Regions from separate parts of the Homo sapiens genome. Here all the other regions are linked to region 3. The links come from fine-mapping of genetic effects on gene expression. A gene starts in region 3. Each other region holds a variant in brackets. All regions are shown on one strand. Distances are from middle to middle. Region 1 overlaps PYHIN1 (pyrin and HIN domain family member 1). Region 2 overlaps MNDA (myeloid cell nuclear differentiation antigen). Region 3 holds the start of PYHIN1 (pyrin and HIN domain family member 1).

Region 1 (8,207 bases), 46 kb after region 3:
AACATTTATTAAAATTCTAATAATAAAGTGTTTTTCAACCACACTTGATAATAAGTACAGTTTATAGATTTCTTGTCCAGAGAACATCAGACAAAGGTGAACTAATGAATTTATATCTAAGTGTTCCAATTGAATCCCAGCCTGCTTTTGGTCATGATATGACCAGTGGAGTCACCTCCACCTAGGGAACAGAAGACTATGATCTACAGTGAGAGGGAAGGTGATGAAAGAGAAAGGCAAGAGGAGAATCATGTCACCACTCTTTTAGTTGAAGACATGTCACCATACAGACTAGTTGAAGACAGATTACCTATATACAGGAGTTCTCAATTTGTGGTCGTTTTTTGGTTTGTTTATGTTTTTGTTGTTTTTGATAAGCCCGAGAATCACATTTTCCTCAATAAATTATATGTAATTTATTTGAGAGTCAAAGCTAGCACGTCCTCTTTAGCCATCTTGGCTTAGGTGACCATGGATGGAACGCATATGTAGTCATTACCAGCTCAGACCCACTTTTCTGTTACTTAATAGACATAATTGAACATCCCAGGACAACATTCTGGAAAAGAACTTATTTTTCCTGCATTTTGGCTTTGAAGGGACTACGCAAAGTTTGCCTAGGTTCTACCATTTTAAATACGCATTATGGTCTGTTTCTATAGCCGTTAGATTTATTTGACTGCATCTAAACCTCCCTTAGCCCAGGAATCTCAGCTAGGGTCCTATGTCTCCTACACCTAACCTCCCATATAGCCATTTCTTCTTTGATATCTAGCACTTCCACAGGATGCCTGGAAAATACATCCTGTTACTTCCTCTGTGATTCACTAGCTCTGAAAGAAGTCCTTGCTTTTGTATATCATAGATCATCCCAATAATACTGTGTTTGTATTAATTATTAATTTGTATAAATTTTTCTATGCTTTTGGATTTAAAGTCAAAAGCAGACCATTCTTATTTTTCATCTTTTGTCATGACTCTCCTAAATCAAAGAGCCCAGAATGGTTGGGAAAACAAATGGAGATATTACTGGCTCAGAATTACTATATGGGAAAAAACGAAGCTATTAGTTTTATTCCCAATCACTACAACTTTATCTGGGTTTTCCACAAGAGGATCAACATAAATCATAATTCATTTCTGGATCAGGCTGACATAAAAAACTTGCATAGTCTTTAAATAACAATGAAAACAATATTTTTCTAACTGAGCTTCTACTGGGTAAAGCTGGAAGTGAAAGTTATGTTTTTATGTATATGATTGCATTTACTCTTCAATACACCTCTTATGAGCACAGTAGAAAGACCATGTTCCAGGGAAAAAACGTGTTCTGCTCTAGACAAGTTAAGTTTGAGATTCCCACAGGACATCTAAGAATTATCCATCTGATATATAGAGCTTAAACTTGGGTAATTTTGGCTGGGCCTTTTACTGAATTACATCAATAGAGACATAGTTGTTAAAACAGTGGATGTGACTAAAAGTACCTAATAGAATGGAAATAATGATGTCTCTCATTTACTGAGTATGCAGAATGACTCAGACTATTCTAAGGGTTTTTCAATAATTATCTTCATTAATCCTTTATAATCCAATTGTTTCACATATTAGCTCATTCAATTATTTGTGGTACACAATGAACAGAAGAGGGAGTTAAATTTGAGGGTGGCCAACATACCTCATAACAGTCCTAAATTACCAAGGATGTCCCTAAGCAAATCAGAACACAAAGGTAGCTGTCTTTTGTGAGAAACATCTCTGTGTAGACAGAGATGGTTGGATCTACATGACAAAGTTTATGCTGTTTGTCACATATATTCATGTGGGATTCTTGGAACAAATAAAGGCTAATATTGGAATGCAAAAAGATCAGAATAAAGGCTAACACATTCAGACACACAAAAATGCAAAGGCTTTCTGATTGCTCCAGTTCTCAGGGCCATTAGTCAAAAGTCCCAAGCCTTCCTTGACAGCAGTTGCACCAGGAATACATTTTGTACGCTCCTCCTACCTTTCTGCCCAATGAGAAGTTTCCCTTTAGCCCTTGTCGTTGGACACACCAGCTCCTTTCTCTATCTTATTGTTCCCTGACATCTCCTGCCCTTTCACGTGGGCTCATGCTGGGTAGGAGTGAATATCGCATTTCATGGTCCCAACAGAGGGGGAAGATGTGACTCCAAGGACAGGATTCATTAAAGGAGATAGATGAGAATGAGAAAAGAGTGCTTCAGATGGAAATAGAAGAAGAGATGTGGCTCACAGGGAGGAGAGGCAGTGTGATTGAAGAAAGAAATGTATGACTCCCTGCATCTCAACGGGTTTATTTTTATCTCTTTATGCTTCAAGGTCACCAAGGACAAGGATATCAAATAACTACTGTTCAATCTTTACTCAAGTGTGGAAATTTTGCCTGAAGTCCTCCACCTAAAAACCTGATGCCATTGGTAATGATGTTTATGAAGATAAGATCAAAGCACAGAAAATAATATATGTATATATATCTGGTTGAAATACTATATATATATATATATATATATATATATATATATATATATATATATACCAGCTATTAATTCTAGGAAATGGAGTATTAAGGGTGCATTTTATTTCATTAGTTTTACTTTTATGCATTTTCTTCATATCATATTTTGCATTCAGAATTTTCATAATTTGAAAAAAAATAAACTTTTTTTTCTTAAAGAGTGCTTCCATAGGAGTTTCTTTAATCTATCTGTGAGTTATGTAAAAGCAAATAAACTGTGGCCTGCAAGTCAGGGTGGGGCACACAGATTTATAGTTTGGATGGGATCTTTAAGGAATAGGCCCTGGTTAAGACTGAACTGACTGTGCCCTGCCCAAAGAATCCAGACCAAGGGGCAGGTAGGGGTGAAATCCAGCCTGTGATTCTGTTGCAAGCACTGTGTCCTGGGAAGGAGTTGCTCTAGCCAAAACTAGAGATATCTTTTCAGAATTGGACTCCTGGAGGGGGAATAATTGGGTAATTTTCTTGCCAAACCAGGCACTTTCTGGTGATGTGCATGAAGGCACTTGCCTATGTTAGAGGAATTCCTGGCCCTGTTTGATGTAAATTATCTGGTTCTATACATTTCCTTCAGCACCAACAGCTCCTCAGGAGCTCTCCCACCATATTCCCTCTTCTCACATTCCACTATATGAATCCATCAGAAAGTTGCCCAGGCAGACAGTTAACTTAGGCAAACTGAAGAATAATTAATTTATTTTAGAGTAGAATGGCAGAAAGTCAGTATCTAAAACTTACAATGTATTTATGGATCATATATTTGGCACCTGGTGTAATTATTTTGTGTCATTTAATCTTCACCGTAGCTCTAGAAGGTTGACAGTTTTCTCCTTTTTACTCTCCATATATAAAGAAAAAAGGGCACAGAAAGCAAATTTACTTTCGAAGTGACACTTAGGTGGTCTTATATAGTCCTTGATTTAACATCCAGGTCTGTTGTTCTGGCTTGGGTTAGGTGTGCTAATGTTAGGAGAACAGGGATAAGATGCAAATTAAACAATGAATAAGACGGATTCCACCTAAGATGGAGAAAGCTGAAAAGAGCCTCACTCTCACCCTTAAAATTATGAAAAAGTAGATAAATGCAAAATAGCAATCTTCTGTACTCATCAGAGAACTGTGGTGATCTGAAGCTATATATGCCCAATTAATCTAAGGAAAAGAGGCATTAAAGTTCTGCCTTTATGGTTTGGACCAACAATCCAAGGAATAAATGTAGTTTTTTTTTCCTCTTGCCCTGCACCTTTCCGATTATGTCTTTTATCAGACATAAAGGTAAGAAAGTATGATAGATTCAGATACCATGAATAAGTTTTTTCAGACATTCTTTATTGCCAAATATCATTGCTAATATTCATATGTGTGTGTGTGTCTATACATATATATATATATATATATATATATGATAATTTGGTTCACTTGGGAAAATCAAATTTTGAAGGATGTTTTGAAGCCACCGAATTTTTTCCTCATGTGCAGTGAAAAAACTGAAATTCAGAGATTGAGTGAAGTGGTCAAAATCACATCATTCAGCTAGTTAGGAAACAGATTTCATCTTGAGAAGATGTCACAAACTGCTAAAACATCCTCCAAATTCAAATTTGACTTATGGACACTGAGAAAATAACTGCTTTATATGCAAATGATATTGGTATTCTGAGCTACTCAAATACATAATATTCATATTACTTTACATAAACTAGGTATAATGGACCACTCTTGAGTATGTAGATGATGGTAATTAACAGTTAGAGAATGGGTCATTTAGGTGCTTTGTCTAATGTGTTTGCTGATTTCTCCCTGAAATTTTAACTTCTAAGGACAGTC[A/G]TGTCTGTAAATGAGATAGGAAAGAAATTATCTTCCACCCGAAAGAATTAGCCTGTTCACTGTGTTTTAATTTAAACAGCGTCAACCTCTAATGCCTTGACCCCACTCTATCTTATATTTTTATATCTTACTACACATCAGAGCTCCTACTTGGGACCACAAGTAGGTGAGAATCTGGGGCTTCCCCTAACTTTGAAATGTGTGAACCAAAGAGAAAGACAGAACAGCTCACAGAGATCTAACCTACCCTCATAGACATCTTAGAGATCAGTTTGTACCAAGTGGTTCTCTGCAAGAGGCAGTGAAATAGCTCTGAGAGGATCTCTAGTGTATTAGCAAATGATTATGATTGGAAGAGGCAAATCCAACACTGTTAGCAACATTATTTCTCTAAAACCACATAGTGAGGCATGTATTAGAATTTTATGATGATAAGAGCACGTGAGATCAACCACTTAACAAATTTCAAGTTTACAATACAGTATTAGGAACTATAAGCACAGTGTTGTGCAGCAGATCTACAGAGCTTATTCATCTGGCATATCTGAAGTTGTATACCCATCGAATAGCAGCTTCCATTTCCCCCTTCCTCCAGCCCCAGCTAACCACCATTTTATTTTCTGCTCCTGTAAGTTTGGCTATTATAGATACTCTACATAAGTGGACTCATGCAGTATTTATTCTCTTATGAGTGGCTTATTACACTTAGCATAATGCCCTCAAGTTTTATTCATGCTGTAACTATTGCAGAATTTCATTCATGCTGTAACTATTGCAGAATTTCCTTCATTAAGAAAGAATAACATTCCATTATATATACACACCACATTTTCTTATCTATTCATTCAAAACTGGGACATTTAGGTAGTTTTCACATCTTGTCTATTTTGAATAATACTGTAATGTACATGGGAGCGCTAGTAATATCTCTTCAACTCCTATTTTAATTATTTTGCATAAATACCAAGAAGAATAAATCTTGGGTCATATGGTATTCATATTTTTTTCTTCCAACTTTTATTTTAGATTTAGGGGCTACATGTGCAGGTTTGTTACATCAATACATTACATGTTGCTGGGATTGGCATACAAATGATTTTGTCACCTAGGTAGTAAGCACAGTACCTGATAGGTAGTTTTTCAGTCTTCACCCTCCTCCCACCCTCGACCTTTAAGTAAACCACCAGTGTCTATTGTGCTTCTTTTTGTGTCCTTGTGTACTCAATGTTTAGCTCCTACTTATTAGTAAGAACAAGTGGTATTTGGTTTTCTGTTCCTGTGTTATTTTGCTTCAGATAATGCCTTGCAGCTGCATCTATGTTCCTGCAAAGGACATGATTTGTTGCAGGAAGTCAGGGACCCCAAATGGAGGGACTGGCTGGAGCCACAGCAGAGGAACATAAATTGTGAAGATTTTGTGGACATTTATCAGTTCCCAAATAATACTTTTATAATTTCTTATGCTTGTCCTTACTTAAATCTTTTAATCCTGTTATCTTCATAAGCTGAGGATGTATCTTATCTCAGGACCACTGTGATAATTGTTAACTGTACAGATTGATTGTAAAACATGTGAGTTTGAAAAATATGAAATCAGTGCATCTTGAAAAAGAACAGAATAGTAGCGATTTTTAGGGAAGACAACCGTAAGCTCTGACTGCCTGCGGGTTTGGGCAAAACGAGCCGTATTTTTCTTCTTGCAGACAGCCTATAAATGGATGTGCAAGTAGGAAAGATATTGCTAAATTCTTTTCCTAGCAAGGAATGTTAATATTAATACCCTGGGAATGGAATGCGTTCCTGGGGAGAGATCTATAAATGGCTGCTCTGGGAATGTCTGACTTGTGCAGTTGAGATAAGGACTGAGATACACCCTGGTCTCCTGCAGAACCCTCAGGCTTACTAGGGTTGGGGAAACTCTGCCCTGGTAAATTTGTGGTCAGACCGGTTCTCTGCTCTCGAACCCTGTGTTCTGTTGTTTAAGATGTTTATCAAGACAATACATGCACCGCTGAACATAGACGCTTATCAGTGGTTCTGCTTTTACCCTTTGTCCCGTTCCCTCAGAAGTATGTGATCTTTGTTAGACCTTTACTAGTGGTTCTGCTTTTTGCCCTTTAAAGCATGTTATCTTTGTACCTACTCCCTGTTCTTACACCCCCTCCCTTTTGAAACCCTTAACAAAAACTTGCTGGTCTGAGACTCAGGCGGGCATCATGGTCCTACCGATACATGAAGTCACCCCTCGTGGCCCAGCTGTAAAATTCCTCTTTGTACTGTCTTTATTTCTCAGCTGGCTGACACTTGTGGAAAATAGAAAGAACCTACATTGAAATATTGGAGTCAGGTTCCCCCAGTAATGATTTTGTATTTTTATGGCTCCGTAGTGTACCATGTTGTATACGTACCACATTTGCTTTATCTAAACCACTGTTAATGGCCATCTAGATTGATTCCATGTCATTACTATTATGAAAAGTGCAATAAGCATACACATGTACTTTGGGAGGCTGAGGTGGGTGGATCATCTGAGGTCAGGAGTTCGAGACCAGCCTGGCCAACATGGTGAAACCCTGTCTCTACTAAAAATACAAAAACTTAGCCTTTTGTGGTGGCAGGCACCTGTAGTCTCAGCTACTTGGGAGCCTGGGGCAGGAGAATCGCTTGAACCTGGGAGGCAGTGGTTGCAGTAAGCCAAGATTGTGCCATTGCACTCCAGCCTGGGGGACAAGAGCGAGACTCTGAATCAAAAGATAAAGAAATAAATAAACAAACAAACAAAGAAACCATATACAAGCACGTATCTTTTAGTAGAACAATTTATATTCCTTTGGGTATATACCAGTAATGGGATTGCTGGGTCAAATGTTAGTTCTGTTTTAAGTTATTTGAGAAATCTCCAAACTGTTTTCAACAGTCGCTGAAGTATTCAGCAAATAGCATCAGGATCACTGGCTAGCTGTATGAAGAAAATTAAAACTGGACCTCTTCCTTTCACCATATAAAAAAATATGGCATATAATTGGCATTTCCACCCTCAATGTATAAATGTTCCCTTTTCTCTACAACCTCACCAGCATCAGTTATTTTTTGACTTTTTAATAGCAGCTATTCTGACTGGTGTGAGCTGGTATCTCCCTGTAGTTTTGATTTGCATTTCTCTAATGATTAGTGATATTGAGCATTTTTCACATGCTTGTTAGTTGCATGGATCCTCTTTTGAGAAAGATCTATTCATGGCTTTTAACCATTTTTAATGAAACTGTTTGGTTTTTGCTTGTTGATTTAAGTTCCTTATAGAGTCTAGATATTAGACCTTTCTCAGAAATCATAGTTTGCAAATACTTTCTCCCATTCTGTAGACTATCTTTTTATTCTGTTGATAGTCTAATTTGCTGTACAGAAGATCTTTAATTAGATCTCACTTGTCAATTTTTGTTGTTGTTGCTACATTTGCTTTTGGAGTCTTTGTCATGAAGTCTTTGCCAAGGCTAATGTCCAGAATAGTATTTCCTAGATTTCTTCTAGGGCATTTACAGTTTTAGGTTTTACATATATAAGTTTTTTTTAACTTTATATTGAGTAGATTTTTTATATGGTGAAAGGAAGGGTTCCAGTTTTAATTTTCTGTATATAACCAGCCAGTTATCCTGACACTGCTTGTTGAATAGGAAGTACTGTTTCCATTACTTGTTATTGTCAACTTTGTTGAAGATCCAATGGTTGTAGGTGTGCAGCTTTATTTCTGGGTTCTCTAACCTGTTCCATTGGTCTATGTATCTGTTTTGTTCTAGCACCATGCTACTTTGGTGACTGTAACTTTGTAGTATAGTTTGAA
Region 2 (8,207 bases), 83 kb before region 3:
CCCGCTACAACGCCCGGCTAGTTTTTTTTGTATTTTTAGTAGAGATGGGGGTTTCACCATGTTAGCCAGGATGGTCTCGATCTTCTGACCTCGTGATCCACCCGCCTCGGCTTCCCAAAGTGCTAGGATTACAGGCGTGAGCCACCGCGCCCGGCCTCCTGCTCAAAGTTTTAAGTTTATTTTCTTGTGTCTGCCCAACACAGAATCAGGAAACCCAGGCCCAACGGCAGGTGGATGCAAGAAGAAATGTTCCCCAAAACGACCCAGTGACAGTGGTGGTACTGAAAGCAACAGCGCCATTTAAATACGAGTCCCCAGAAAATGGGAAAAGCACAATGTTTCATGCTACAGTGGCCAGTAAGACTCAATATTTCCATGTGAAAGTCTTCGACATCAACTTGAAAGAGAAATTTGTAAGGAAGAAGGTCATTACCATATCTGATTACTCTGAATGTAAAGGAGTAATGGAAATAAAGGAAGCATCATCTGTGTCTGACTTTAATCAAAATTTTGAGGTCCCAAACAGAATTATCGAAATAGCAAATAAAACTCCCAAGATCAGTCAACTTTACAAGCAAGCATCTGGAACAATGGTGTATGGGTTGTTTATGTTACAAAAGGTAAACCCTTAATTTTGTTTTAATTTTCTCTACCATTACCTGGAAATAAATGTCTTAATTTGCCAGACTTACTGTCTGAATATTGGAACACAAGAATTTATATTGACTAGAGATAGTGATGAAGTTGTCCCACAAAATAGGAAATAGGACTAAGTGACCTATTAACTTTCTTACGCCAAAATAAATGTAGGGACTTTGAAAAAAAGTTAGTAAGAAATATTGGCAGTAATGATCTGTTGTCAGCCACAATGAACTAGGACAATACAGGGTCCAAATCAACGGGAGCAAGCTAATAACATCATCTCTTTCAGCTCCATCCCAATGAGCACTGATAATTTTACTGTGAGTTTTGATAAATTTATTTTAAGTAATGAATTGTGCTACCAAGGTTGAATTCTGGTTGTGACATAATTTTGGAGTAATAAGTGGATTGGCTGGTATGCTCATAAATGCAAATACATTCAACAGCTATCCATACAATCTAAACATTTGTGCTTAGATCAGTTGCCCTTCTATCTTATTTATTTATTCATTTATTTATGAAGATAGCATTGAACAACTGAGAAATATTGAATTCCATGATACTTAAAGGATAAGGCAATCTCTTCATACTATTTACAAAAAAAAAATAATTCCAAGGCACAGAGTTTTATTGATATGTCCATGTCCAAATTCAAGATGCTAGTTAGGATAATGCATTCCATCCCTTTCTCCACTCTAAAACATTACACATTTCTATGAACTCAACTAACATTTTATATGATTGACTGCTTTATAACCCTACATACATGTCTTTCAATATAGCCCCTTAAATTTACCTCCACATTTTCTCACACTCTCTTTAAGAGATCTTGCTTATAAATGCAATTACAGAATTGATGAGTAATAGCTTAAGTGTGTGAAACACTACAGAGTATGAATGGAGGGAGTTAGGTCAATGGGGACAAGATATTGGAAAAGAATAAGTAATGAGGAAGGCTGAGAAAGAATGAATGATTGTGTTATAGAAGATTTTTCCTTTAAAATTTCTCATAATCTGAAGTAACTCAGGAGTGGAAAACCAAATATTGTATGTTCTCACTTGTAAGGAGGAGCTAAGCTATGAGTACACAAAGGCATACAGAGTGATCTAATAAACTTTCAAGACTCAGAAGCGGGAGGCTGGGAGGGAGGTGAGGGATACAAAACTATATATTGGGTACAATGTACACTACTTGGGTAATGGCTGCCCTAAAATCTCAGAATTCACCGCCATATAATTAATCCATGTAACCCAAAACCATTTGTACCCCAAAAGCTATTGAAATTTTTAAAAATTAAAATAATAATAAAGTGAAATTCCTCATAATCTACTGAATGAATAATTGTAGAAAGCATACATTTGTTTTTCCACAGGACCATGAGCCAAGAAGTTCTATAGGAATTTTTGATTCCTCTATATCTAGGTGCTTTATTTACTCTCAGCTGATCTGAAGGTGGTAGCAGGAGAAAAAGAGGGAAATATTTATTGTTGTATAATTGCAGAAAGAAAAATACCTTAAGCAGGAAAAAAAAATGCTGGATAATAAAAGATGGACCCTGTGAGATGGCAGGCCAAGCCACATGTATGATCTGTACCTGTCATTCCTGTCGTGCATATTGCATTAACTTTGTCATGAGACTCTTTCTCATCTATATGATACTAACAATCCTCTCAGAAACAGGATGTTAATCTTCTTTTGCAGAAAAGCGTACACAAGAAGAACACAATTTATGAAATACAGGATAATACAGGATCCATGGATGTAGTGGGGAGTGGAAAATGGCACAATATCAAGTGTGAGAAAGGAGATAAACTTCGACTCTTCTGCCTTCAACTGAGAACAGTTGACCGCAAGCTGAAACTGGTGTGTGGAAGTCACAGCTTCATCAAGGTGGGAACTGGATAGAGGAGAATGAGTTTGCTAAAGAGGCAAATAATTTTGCTTAGGCTTTGGGAACACCAGGTTCCTCATGTATTACTCAGAGAGTCCAGCGAGTGGAAGGAGAACCTAAACAATGCCCTTGCATTTGTAACTGGAAGATTTTCAGAAGGATATTAAGGTAAAGGCATTCATACAGCTCTAGAAAGGATACAATACTAGTGTTAATTGATTTAAAGATGTGTCTAGCGGCAGGGAACATAGGGCTCAAGAGCAAGGGTTCTGAATAAGACAGATCTGATTTGAATCCTGGATTTAAGAAGCACTAGTTGGCTGATATTGGGGAAACAGTTTCATTGGTCCTCTAAAATAATGGAAGTCTCCACTTCATTGGGATGGTTTAAACATTCAGACAATGTATACATATTAATTATCTCACAACCTGGCACATCATAATAAACTGATCTGTGGTAGATAGTTTTATTTTTAGGAAGGTAAAAATTGGAGGGACTTTTAGGCAAAGGAAATGATACATGAAAATTCCAAAAGTGTGACATAGCGTAATGAGTTCTGTACAACTGAAATTCAGTAGATGCAGAAGACTGTGGGACCCAAAGATTAAAAAAAAGGGACTACTGAGGCCCAAAGATGAAAAAGAAATAGAAGTGTGGCTTTTTCAAAAGTAAATTAATGGAAACTTTATTGTTGAAAATACATGAAAAATTGAAACAAAATTATGCAGAAGAATGCCTGATCACTTTGATATTTTAGCAAAAAATATTCCGGTGTCTATCTATGGAGTTGCATTACAGAGCAATTAGGCTTGGGGCAGAGATATCTATTAGAAGTTGTGTGCTGGATTCACTCATATCCTTACTGAAGAGAGCTTACTGTTGGAAATTCAGGAATTATATGCACTGCTTGCTAAACATGTGGTAGTTTGAAATCAGCCATGTGAAAATATGTATGCCACCAGACTCTGCAAATGTTACAAATCGAAACTTTTAAAAAAAAATGGGTAGTTGGTTAACCAGGATACCACAGAAGTTTATTTCAAAAATCCATTCAGGAAGGAAAAAGACAAACAGAGATTAGTTAATGGGGGGAAAATGAGTTTTTTGAAGGTAGATCTTCATAACTTTGTGACTAACGAGCTTTCATAGGGGATAAGGAGAATAATGTAGCCAATGGGAAGAAAAGATATGGCAGGTGAAAGGAGAACTATAAGCAGAGCTTCATTTCAATATCTAGGGTCTCATTATGTCTTTCTTATCTCTCTTTAAAGGTCATCAAGGCCAAGAAAAACAAGGAAGGACCAATGAATGTTAATTGAAATATGAAAGCTGAAATGCAACAAACAACTTCCGCTTAAAACAATTAAGTTGTTAATAACTGTGATTTTGTAAATTTCAGTAATTCATTTAAATGATGTTTCAGTAGATATATTCTAGCATATTAAGAGCTTTTATAACTGAGTTATAGATTAGTTTGCTTTCTGGAATAAAATTTTCTTCTTATACTCTTCCTTTTTTTTAGATATTACATTTTGCTTTTATGACATTCACGAGGCAAAAAATAAAATATCTTTTTTTGAAGGACATTATTTTCCCAAAGTCTTGTCTACGTTCTGTTAAGATCAATAGTGAGCTGCTTGAGGCTGAGTACTTTGTGCATTGTGAAGCACATTCTAGAGATGGGGAGAGACACATGGGGCCTTA[T/C]CCACATTGGAGTCTATATTGTGATCTTCAGAGGATAAGTCCGCAGTAAAGGCTGTGACTAAATTTATGTAGCCCATGCTTAAATGAACAAATACTGTGGCCTAGGGAAGTAGCAGATCTAGAGGAAAGGATTCCTTTATGCAACTGTGTCCTCCAGAAGGGGGCCGTTGGGGTAATTGGTTTCTCTGAAGGGGACAACAACGGTGATTTGCATAAAGGTACCAATATATGCAAGATGCTTTCCCCTCCTTATTTGGTGTGGATTATCATATCCATCATATTCCATTTTTCTGACTTGTAGATACATCTACATATGTATTCAAAATCAGAGCAACTAAAAACATAAAACAAACATTGACAGTTCTGAGGGGAGAAATATACAGCAATGTAATAGTAAGAGACTTTAGTACTCACAATAATGAAGAGATTATCCAGGCAGTTATTCAATAAGATAATAGCAGACATCAACAACTCAATACACCAACGGACCTAACAGATATAAACAGAACATTCTACACAACACCATCAAAATACACATTTGCCTCAAGTATGCATGGAGCATTGACCACAACATGTCACATTCTAGGTCACAAAACAAGTCTTAATGAATTCCAGAAGAATAAAATTATAACGAGCATCTTTTCTGATTATTATAGAATTAACCTAGATATAAATAACAAATAAACAACTGGAAAACTGACATATATGTGAAAATTTAAAAACATGCTTCTGTATAGCCAATGGATCAAAGAAGAAATTAAAAGGGTAATTAAAAAAATGAGACAAATGAAAATGAAACCACAATATACTAAAATGTATGAGATACAGCAAAAGGAGTTCTAAGAGGAAAATTTATAGTTATAAGCATTTACCTTAAAAAAGAAAGCTCTCGAGTAAACAACCAAATGCCTCAGGGAACTGAAAAAAAGAAAAACAAAGGCCAAACCTACAAAGACTGAATTAAGAAGAAACAGAACACCCGAAAAAAACAAATGACAAACAAGGAGATTAAATCAGTCATCAAGAAACTTCCAACAACAACAACAAAATGCCAAAAACCTGATCACTTCAAGGGTGAATTCTACCAAACATTTATGGAATAATTGACTCCAATTTTTCACAAATTATTTCAAAAAAATCAAAGAGGAGGGAACACTTTCACACTCTTTTTATATGAAGTCAGCAATACCCTGATAGTAAGGCTGCACAAGAACACTACAAGAAAAAAATATATATAGGCCAATATACTTTATGAGCATATGTGAAAAAAATCCTCAACACTAGGAAACCAAATACAATGGCACATTAAGAGGATTATACGCTATGATAAAGTAGGATCTATCCTTGAGATATAAGAATCATTCAACATATGAAAATCAGCCAATCTGATACATAATGTATGTTAGCAGAATGAAGGACAAGAAACATATGATCATCTCAATCAGTGCAAAAAAAAGCATTTGACAAAATTCAACATCCTTTCATGGTAAAACTTATAGACAAATTAGATAAAGAAGTAATGTACCTCAACACAATAAAGGCCAATTATCACAAGTACATAGCTAACATCACACTCAATGATAAAAAGTTGAAAGTGTTTCCTCTAAAATTAGGAACAAGACAAGGATGCCCATTCTTACCACTTCTATTCAGCATAGTGACAGAAGTCCTAGCCAGAGCAATCAGGCAAGAGAGAGAAGTAAAGGCATCTGAATAAGAGAAGAAGAAATCAAATTATCTCTCTTTGCTGATGATATGATTCTATACTTAGAAAATTCTAGAGACTATGTCAAAATGCTACTAAAACTGATAAAATATTTTAGTAAGCTTTCAGGGTACAAAATTAACATACAAAAATTAATAGCATTTCTATACACCAATAATACCCAGGCTGAGAGTCAAATCAAGAACACAATCCCATTTACAATAGCCACAAAGAAAAGGAAATATCTGGGAATACAGCTAACCAGGGAGGTGAAAAATCTCTACAAGAACTACAAAGCACTGCTGAAAGAAATCAGAGATGACAGAAATAAATGAAAAAATATTTCATGCTCATGGATTGGAAGAATCAATATTGTTAAAATGACTATACTGCCCAAAGCAATTTACAGAGTTAATGCTACTCCTATTAAGCTACCAATGTCATTCTTCACAGAATTAGAAAATGCCTATTTTAAAATTTATATGGAACCAAAAAAGAGCCCAAATAGCCAAAGCAATCCTAAGCAAAAAGAACAAAATTGGAGGCATTACATTACCCAACTTCAAACTCTACTATAAGACTACAGTAATCAAAACTGCATGGTACTGGTGCAAAAACAGACACAGACCAATGGAGGAGAATAGAAAATTCTGAAATAAAGCTGAACACTTATAACCATCTGATATTTGACAAGGTGGACAAAAACAAACAAGAGGGAAAGGACTCTCTGTTCAGTAAGTGAACTCCCTATTCAGTAAATTCAGTAACTGACCAGCCATATGCAGAACAATGAAACTAGACACTTACCTTTCAACATGTATAAATTAACTCAAAATGGATTAAAGATTTCAGTGTAAGACCTCAAACTACAAAAATCCTGGAAGAAAACCCAGGAAATACCCCTCTTAACATCCACCTTGAATAAATTTTTTAGTTAAGTTCCTAAACGCAATTGCAACAAAAACATAAAATGATAAGTAGGATCTAATTAAACTAAAGAGGTTCTATGCAGCAAAAGAAACTGTCAACAGGGTAAACAGAGAATCTACAAAATGGGAGAAAATATTCACAAACTATGCATCTGACAAAGGTCTAATATCCAGAATCTATAAGGAACTTAAAATAACAAGCAAAAAACAACAAACTCCATTAAAAATGGGCAAAGGACATGAATAGTCACTTATCAAAAGAAGACATACGAGTAGCCAACAAACATATGAAATAATGCTCATCATCACTGTTTATCAGAGAAATGCAAATTAAAACTACAATGAGATACTATCTCACACCAATCAGAATGATGATTATTAAAAAGCCAAAAAGCAACAGAGACTGGCAAAGCTGAGGAGAAAAGAGAATGCTTATAGAGTGGTGGTGGGAATGTAAATTAGTTCAACCACTGTGGAAAGCAGTTTGGAGATTTCTCAAATAACTTAAAACACAACTACCATTCAACCCAACAATTTCATTACTGGGTATATACTCAAAGGGAAATAAGATCATTATACCAAAAAGACATGTGCACTTGTATGTTCATTGCCACGCTATTTACAATAGCAAGGACGTGGAATCAACTTAGATTCCCATCAGTTGTGGACTGAATAAAGAAAATATAGTACATATACACCATGCAGTATTATGAAGCCATAAAAAAGAATGAGACCATGTCCTCTGAAGCAACATGGATGGAGCTGGAGGCCATTATCCTAAGCAAATTAAGGCAGGAACGGAAAACCAAATATTGCATGTTCTCACTTATAAATGGGAGCTAAGCAGGGAGTACACATGGACATAAAAATGGAAATAATAGACACTGTGGAGTACTAAAGAGGGAGAGAGAGGGGAGGATGTGGATTGAAAAACTATTAGTTGGGTACTATGCTCACTACCTCACAACGGCAGCAACAAATAAACTATAGCTAATTAATGTTGATGAAAGACTACCTTCTCGCCGTTTAGGATCAGCAGCAACAAAAAAAGGTGGATGATCACTTCACTTCTATCCTACCATGTAGCTGAGGTTCTTATCTAGTATAACAATAAATAAAATAAAAAAAGATTAGAAAAGAATTGTTTGTCTATAAACTCTATTCATATATGTTAATTATCTGCAAAAAATTATAACAAATAAAATAAGAAAACTACTAAAGTAAAATTAATCAAGATAGAAAGTGAGATCAGTATATAAATCCAACTTATATGCATTTGCAACAGCCAGAAATGAACTTTAAAAAATAAAATATGCTACTGAAACTAATAAATA
Region 3 (8,207 bases):
TACCAAAACTGTCTTGTAAGGAAATAAAACAACTAAATATTTTTATATCTATTAGAGAAAGAGAAGTTGTAACAAAAATCTTTCCGTAGTGAAAGTTTTGGGAATAGACACTTTATGAATTCCATCAGACATTTGAGGATAAAAGTTTACCATGTCTATACAATCTGTTTTAGAAATGCCAGTTTGCTGTCACACCAAAATTAAAGATATTACACAGAAACTAAACAAAAACCAACTCTCACATGAAAATAAATGCAAAAACACTTTTAAAATATTGAAAAATTATACTTACCAATATACTTATCAATATGACAGAAACTAAACAAAAACCAACTCTCACATGAAAATAAATGCAAAAACACTTTTAAAATATTGAAAAATTATACTTACCAATATACTTATCAATATGACAGAAACTAAACAAAAACCAACTCTCACATGAAAATAAATGCAAAAACACTTTTAAAATATTGAAAAATTATACTTACCAATATACTTATCAATATGATAAATTATAATGCATCATTAAAAGTGTTTTATCTCAGGGATATAAGATTGGTTCAACATTTAAAACTCAATCACCTTTCCCTCTTCCTTGAGAAAGAGAAATCTATTTACTTGAGAGACAAAAGGAGAAGGCACCTGATTGAGGTGGCTGATGGCCATGAATGCATAAAGCAATCTTGCTAACTGAGGCTCTCAACAAATGGGTTTTGTTCTGACTCTTAGGGATAATTAGAGAAAGGTTTTAACACTCTCCATTTCCATTTTCCTCTCTGAGATCACAATAATTATTACAAGGCTTTATCCAGGGGTTTACAATGGACTTTAAAAGTCCCAAACGTGGTTTCTTGGTGTGATTGTGTAAGAGAAAAGCTTCAGCTGACTTAAATTTAAAAGAGTTTAACTGAGCAGTGAATGTTATTCAGGCAGCCTCCCAAGCCAGAGTAGGCTCAGAGACTCCAGCACAGCCACATAGTGGAAGATTTATGAAGAGAAAAAGAAAAGTGAGATACAGAAAATGGACATGAGATAAAGAGCTGGATTGGTTATAGCTCGGAGTTTGCCTTATTTGAACGCGGTTTGAACAAGTTGGCCACATTTGATTGGCCAAAACTTGGTGATTGACACAAGCATATACTACAGTCTGTTTACACTTCCATTTAGGCCATCATTCACGCTGTATGAGAAACCTTTAGGCTGAACTTAGAATATGTAAGAAGGCAGCTTTAGGCTAAACTTGATTTAACATTGCTTTTGATTTAACAAAGCAAAAATAAAAATAAGTAATTATTTTTGCTTTTCTCCTTAGAGGCTTTCTGCCGTCTCCTAGACTGACGACTGGGTACAGATTGACAAACGTTTTCTATAATAAGCCATACAGCAAAATCTTTACACTCTGCAGCCGGATGGACTCTGTTGCTAGTCAACTCTTCATTGCACCATGAAGTAGATATTGACAATGCATAAGTGAGTAATCACAGTTGTGTTTCAATAAAATTTTACTTACAAAAGTGGATGGTGTGTTAGTATTGTCCCACAGGCAGTAATTTACTAACATCTTGGTTAGAACATTAATCGGGTGGGAACTTTTCCTGAGGACTTTGAATGAGCATCGGAATTAGTACTTCAGATGATAAAAAGTCATGAAGGTCCATCCAAGACTTTTACCCCCTTATCAGGAGCTCTCGTATGTTCTATTAGTGAGCTTTCTGTGTGATGGCACAAATTGCAAATTATTGCCCACTGCTTCAGAATCAGCACAAATGCACATTTTTAAAGCATTTCTTTGCTTCATCTATTACAATTTTATCTGCACAGTATGGATTATGGAGCAATGTTCTGAATTGTCTTCATTGGTGACAGTAATTTGTATGTTGTATGCTGGAGTCCTAACCAAAGGCATTACTCTACATGAAATGATTACCAAAAAGGGGAAACAAAAATGTCCTGAAACATGGTAATTTCTACCAAGTTTCCTCTACTCTCTGACCTTTGAATTGGGGTAACCTGACCTTCCTAATATCCCTCTCTACCTACTATCTTAAGACCAACTTAGTGTCTCTACATTAACAGCAACGTAAACCTATAAAAGAAAACCATGAACACTCGAAGGTATTTTTGTGGCCATCCTTCCAGATCCTCCTTGCTTTTTCTTAACTTACTTTTGCTTTGATAAAATTATCATATGGCTCCAAATCCAGACATCAACTATCCTCTCCATGACCCTAGTTTGTACTAAGGCGATCAGCTTTCTTCTGTTCTGTAGATGGCCTCAGATCATTTGTATTATTTGTGAAGGAAACCAAAAATACTTCTCAAAATACTTAGGACTGTTAAGTTAAAGACAGAAAATGGAGGGGAACATGCTGCCTCAGGCACTATTTGCCTGATGGCAGGACATAAATCCGTATTTACTGGAGAAAGCACTTGCTTTTCAGCCCGGAGAAGGCGCCACCAGGAACCTGAGGAATCTGGGAACAGATTTTACTACCTTCCCACGTTTTCCCACCTTTTAAATGACTGGAACTGCTTTCTCCTTTGCTTTTCACTATATAGAACGTATGGCTCTTTATTGAAATACTATTTAAACAAGGTTTCTAAGCCACAGCCTGGAGAGAGAAATACTTTTGAACTGAGGCCTATCCCTTGTGATGAGTAGAGCACACATTAATAAACTGCTTGTTTTTCTTTTGTTAATTTGACGTTTGTTTTCAGGAGAGTGTCAACTAATAACCTAAAAAGGGAAATTTAAAAAAAACTTGTTTTCTCCCCTACAGCTGTATTTCGGGCCCCATTTTCCACTCATGGCCACATCCTGCTTGCAGATCTGCTGCTGGGTTAACACAACATCATCTGCCAGTTGGTGTCGTTTATTTGACATCTTGGGGTTTTAGTACTCTGAAGGACACCCACTGCCCTTAACAGAAAAAATACTGCTGAGCAAAGGGTTTAACAGGACTCTCGGTCTACCAGAAGTTCAGTGCATTTTCCAGGATTTTCAAGGCTTCGATGCTGTCATGTTGTGAGCCCACTATCCACTTGTGTTTTTCCATGAATAATGAAGGAAACCTGAGGAATCATGAATGTAATCATTGAGGTAAAATAACCTAGTCATAGTCAAGAGGACAGCTAGTGTTAAACTCCTTTATATATATTTGAGAAAGGATTTATATATTCATAATAACTTTCTGATCTGGAAAGCCCTAGGTTTGTCAACTATTAATAACTGGGTGAATGCTTCAGGTAGTATTTAAACCAACTGCTATTTCATAGCAGACATTCTCCCATGCAGGAGATGCAGTAAAGTACTGGTAGCAATAGATGCTCCTACCAAGATCTCCCCCTGCAACCGCACAGGAAAGGAGGGAGAAGAAACCACCTTGCTTCTCTCATATTTGACAATCATTCATCGGAATAGAGGTCCCTAATGTCCCACATGTAAGTCTGCTGGTTAAGAAAGTTCTAAGATTGGAACTCCATTCAGATATCAACATTTGTAAGAAAAAAAATTTTAAATATAACTTTGATACAAATTTTACTTTGATTAAGATACCTACAGGAAAGAAACTGTTCATTTTCTCTAACAGGATGGAAAGCAAAAAATATGGGTGGGAGGAGTCTGCACGTTGTTTCACAACTTCTCTCTCCCCAGGGCAAAGCAGAGTATGAGGAAGCCAGCACTAGTCAAGTGACTCTAAGAAGGGCCATTTTCCCTTGTTGTCTTTGAAAATACTTCATTTTCTTAGCATTTCAGGAGATTATAACATCCTGTATTTCAGTTTCTGAGAGCTTTACTGACTGATTTCCCTATTCAAAACAATCCTCATTTCCTACATTTCTGAAGATCTCAAGATCTGGACTACTGTTGAAGAAATTCCCAGTAAGGTGAGTACTGTGGGTATTTTTTATAGAAAAGATCTAGATGCTTCCTTGAAAGCCACAAAATCACAAGGGAAAAATCGATATTGGTTCTTCAGGGCAGTGGGGTGAGGGCAGTAGGGCTGGTATCAACTATATTCAGAAAAGTGAAAACTGCAGTTAATACTTCCAATTCTTTACTTACTTCAAAGATAGTAGATATCCTTTATTCTACAACTGGGGCATGAATGAAGGAATATGCATTTTGACCATTGCAGATTTTAAAACAAATTCTCTGAGTATATATTCTCTGAGGTTAGAAAGCTTGGTGGCCATTGGGGTCTGGGCAAAAGACAAGATAATGATTTCATTCTTTTTTATGGATGCATAGTATTCCACGCTGTATATGCATAACATGGATACGGCTAGAGAACATTACCCTAAGTGAACTAACACAGGAATACCAAATACTGCATGTTCTCACTTATAAGTGGAAGTTAAACATTGAATCCATATGGGCACAAGATGGGAACGGTAGACGCTGGGGACTGCTTGAGAGGAAAGGTGGGAGCAGTATGTGGGTTGGAAGGCTATCTATCTGGTACTATGTCGCTACCTTGGTGATGGGATCACCAGACAACAAGCCTCAGCGACACACAGTTTACTCATTTAACAAGCCTGCACATGTACCCTCTGAACCTAAAATGAAAGTAGAAGATAAAATAAGACAAGATAATGATGTGCACAAAGTATCAGGAAATAATATTAAGTAAAAAACACATCTAGACATACAGCTGTATTTTACGGTATCTCAATTTTACAAAACATGTTCTCACACAAAAACATATGTGAGAACATTTTGTAAATAATATTATTCTACAAGTGCAAACACATAGTAGAAAATGTATCCATTTTGCAAACACAATTATTCAAATAATTCAAATAATTCAAATGTGTCAATATTTTCATAAGTATGTTTAACTTTTACATTAGCATCATTCTATACCAGATGTGAAAGGCAGTTTTTTATTCATTTTAAGATTACTTCCTGCCCTCCTGAAAGTTAATGATGTTTTATTTTTCTAGTGGCAATGTATAGGGGAGAGGCATGGAAGTCAATTTGAAATAGATTTATATTGTCAAAGTTCAGAATTTTTAGAAGACTTTCTGTATAGCCTGGTGCAATATCTCAGTGTACTTGACTAGAATATGAGATTTTAAATGTTGATTTCAGGATTTATATATGTTAGATAAATATTGCTATCAATTATGTTGCTCAAATTTGTAAAAATGTTTTTTTACCTTGTTCATTTAGTATTGGAAGATATAATATAGAACCTCCTATTATAAGACGGTATTTTCTTGTACTCCTCTCAAATTCATATATATAATATATAGATATGCTCACATGCATAGTTGTATAATGTATATTATGTGTGTATGTGATCATGCATACATGTTTCCAAACATAAACATACACATATAAATATATATATTTGTGGCACCGTGTACATATGTGTGTATATGAAGATAAATATATTATATAACATTATATTATCATGAAGGACTATACAATAATGAAAAATAATATACATTTATTATTATTAGATAAATCTATAATTTAAATTATTGTATCTTCCCAGGAATTCAACCTTTTACCATGTGGTATCTGATAATACTCTTTGTCTTAAGATCTTTTAAAAATGATTCTAGCATAGATAAGCTGGCTTTCTTCTAGTTTCTCCTTGCATGATAATTTAAATTTTTTTTCATCTTTCAGTGATCTTTTACTGACAACATACATATAGAAATTTTAAATCAAATTTGATAAAAGTTGTCATTTAACTAGTTAACCTCTTTATGTATAGGCTAATAATTAACATATTTTGGCCTGCTTCTGCTATCTTCACTTCAATTTATAACACTTCTATATTCTCCTACTTGTCTGTTTTTAAAACTTATATTTCCATCTCACCCTTTAAGACAATTACATTAGTAAACTCATATTCTTTTTCTTCCCTCCCTCCACCATGTTGGTATACTTTCTGTTTCTCTTTTCTTTGATCAGGGCTTTCTTTTTAAGTCATAGGCACACATAATCAAGTTCGTTTTTCATTCTTACTTGTCTTTTGGCCTGCAGCTTTTTAAAATTTTTTTTTAATTTTCTATTGAAAAGTACTTCCAAAAATGTTTCTGTGTGCATCTTTGTCTGGAAAAACTACTGAGGCCTTCAGGTTCAGAGAATAGTTTTTGAGGATCTTATGTTTAAATATCACTTTGTTTAGATTGAAATTCTAGTTTTAAAATTATTTTTTCCTTCAAGACAAGATGAGAGCATTTCTTTTGTACCTGGGGGGCTCGGTATGTTTTGAAAATCAGAACTTGGAGGTTTATAAAGATTACTTAATGCACATTTTTCTAGAAACCCCAGTGTTATCAGTGTCATTACTACAAAAGCAAAAGCACTAATATTTCAGCATCAAAACATATGAATATTTGTGTTTAAGTGGAATAAATAAAAATCATACATAGCCTTCTGTAAGCTCACATCTGGTTTCATTTTGCAAATAAATCGTGTTGTCATACTCACAAAACAAATCAAAACTTCCCATTTCTAAACTTTTTGTTTAGCAATTTATATGGGACTTTGGGCCAGCATTATATAAAAATGATTCCATTCTCCTCTTTCAAGTAGATTTGTTGTTGAGAATCAGTTTCAATCTAATTTTTGGATCTTTGCAGGTGATCTAAAGCCTTCATTCTCGGAGGCTTATGGAGTATTTATTTGTTTTTTATGTTCTTCAGTTTCACTATATGTCTTTGTATATATTTTTTCCTTCATTCTATGCTTATCAATCTGAGGACACTCATGTTCTCTCAAGAAGAAAGCAATTAACAGCCCCAGGAATTTAAATATCTAAATTACACAAGAGGTACACAAATACATGTTTTCTATAATTAAAATATTTGTTTTTGTATTTATTTTTATCGAGGTGGAGTTTTGCTCTTGTCACTCAGGCTGGAGTGCAGTGGCATGATATCTGCTCACTGCAGACTGCACCTCCCGGGTTCAAGCAATTCTGTTGCCTCAGCCTCCTGAGTAGCTTGGATTATGGATTACAGGCACCCACCACCATGCCTGGCTAACTTTTGTATTTTTAGTAGAGACGGGGTTTCACCATGTTGGCCAGGCTGGTCTTGAACCCTTGACCTCACATGAACTGCCTCCCTCAGCCTCCCAAAGCGCTATGTTAATTTAAAAAGGAAACAGGAATCCATAGCATGCTTTGAGTGTCATCATGTGCTAAAGTGCACTGGTGCTAAAGAGGTCCAGAGGAGTAACACTCTGTCCATAAGGGCACTCTGAAAATTTCTAGAAGACAAACTCTCAGTTGAGTCTAAAATGTTGTAGGAGAGGCAGTCAGATAGAGGAATGTGGGAATGGCTTTCCAGGCAATGAGAAGAGAATTAGCAAAGTCATGAAGCATGAAAATGTTTTATACTTCTGAAATGTAAGATATAAGGAACACACAAGTGCCAGAGGTTAAAAAAAAAAAAAAAAAGAATGCAGATTATTCAAAGTCTTCTGAAACAATACAAGAAGCAAGGAATGTATTGAAAAGAAAATGGGCAAATATTGAAAGATTTCAGTGGGATAAAAATGTGGTTTATAGAGAGAAATGTGGATCTGTGAAATGAAAATGAATTAGACAAATCAAGCCTAAAAGAAAAATCAAGCAACTATTGAAATATTCCAGCCAATAAATCCTGTGTTCCTGCAATAGAGAAAATGTAGATGTTCAGGAAAGTGATAGTTTTATGGGCACAGAGGACAAATATGGCAGGGTCCAACACCAAGGAAGAGGATACTGATGAGAGCTGACAAGAGAAGAGTTAAGGAGAATAGGGTCGGCGCCCCAGCATGAAACTGTAGTGCTGCGGCAGAAAGTTATTCATATAAGGTGGGAGGCTGCAGCCCATTTACACCTAGGCCACTCCAGTCATAGTGGTGGGTGTGGGAAGATTTAAGAAACAACAGGCAGGTTTTGGGGGATAGGCTCCAGCCCCAGTAAAGGATGGGAAGAGCAACCAAGCACTTTGACACTCCACAGCCCATACTCTAAACACTGAGACAATTGCTTGTTCACAGACCTCCCTCTAACACCTGGACCCAATTCAACTATCCTCATTCAATGGGATGAATTACTTGGACATTCCTAAAGCAAAAGTTCTTCACTCAATTTCTACAGTAACTCATTTGGTCATTAAGTCCTTCTTTATCACACATATTCATGGACAACTCTTTCTTTTATTATTATTATTATTATACTTTAAGTTTTAGGGTA

What was found. PIP is the estimated chance that this variant, and not a neighbour inherited with it, causes the effect. A credible set is the group of variants that fine-mapping cannot tell apart.
Region 1: its variant is the best candidate, but not a certain one, in a credible set for the expression of PYHIN1 in whole blood (TOPMed, PIP 0.74).
Region 2: its variant is the best candidate, but not a certain one, in a credible set for the expression of PYHIN1 in whole blood (INTERVAL, PIP 0.74).

Annotation. Positions count from the first base shown.
Region 1 is chr1:158,974,355-158,982,561 of GRCh38, forward strand. It overlaps PYHIN1 (pyrin and HIN domain family member 1), which reads left to right. Exons shown (of 9, transcript NM_152501.5): 9 at 2,347-2,705. Among named protein-coding and RNA genes, the nearest start is that of PYDC5, 24 kb to the right of the region's middle. The variant A/G (reference allele first, on the strand shown) is at 4,370.
Region 2 is chr1:158,845,384-158,853,590 of GRCh38, forward strand. MNDA (myeloid cell nuclear differentiation antigen) reads left to right here. Exons shown (of 7, transcript NM_002432.3): 5 at 204-620; 6 at 2,345-2,533; 7 at 3,807-4,119. The coding sequence ends at 3,854. Among named protein-coding and RNA genes, the nearest start is that of MNDA, 18 kb to the left of the region's middle. The variant T/C (reference allele first, on the strand shown) is at 4,240.
Region 3 is chr1:158,927,889-158,936,095 of GRCh38, forward strand. PYHIN1 (pyrin and HIN domain family member 1) reads left to right here and starts at 3,664. Exons shown (of 9, transcript NM_152501.5): 1 at 3,664-3,888.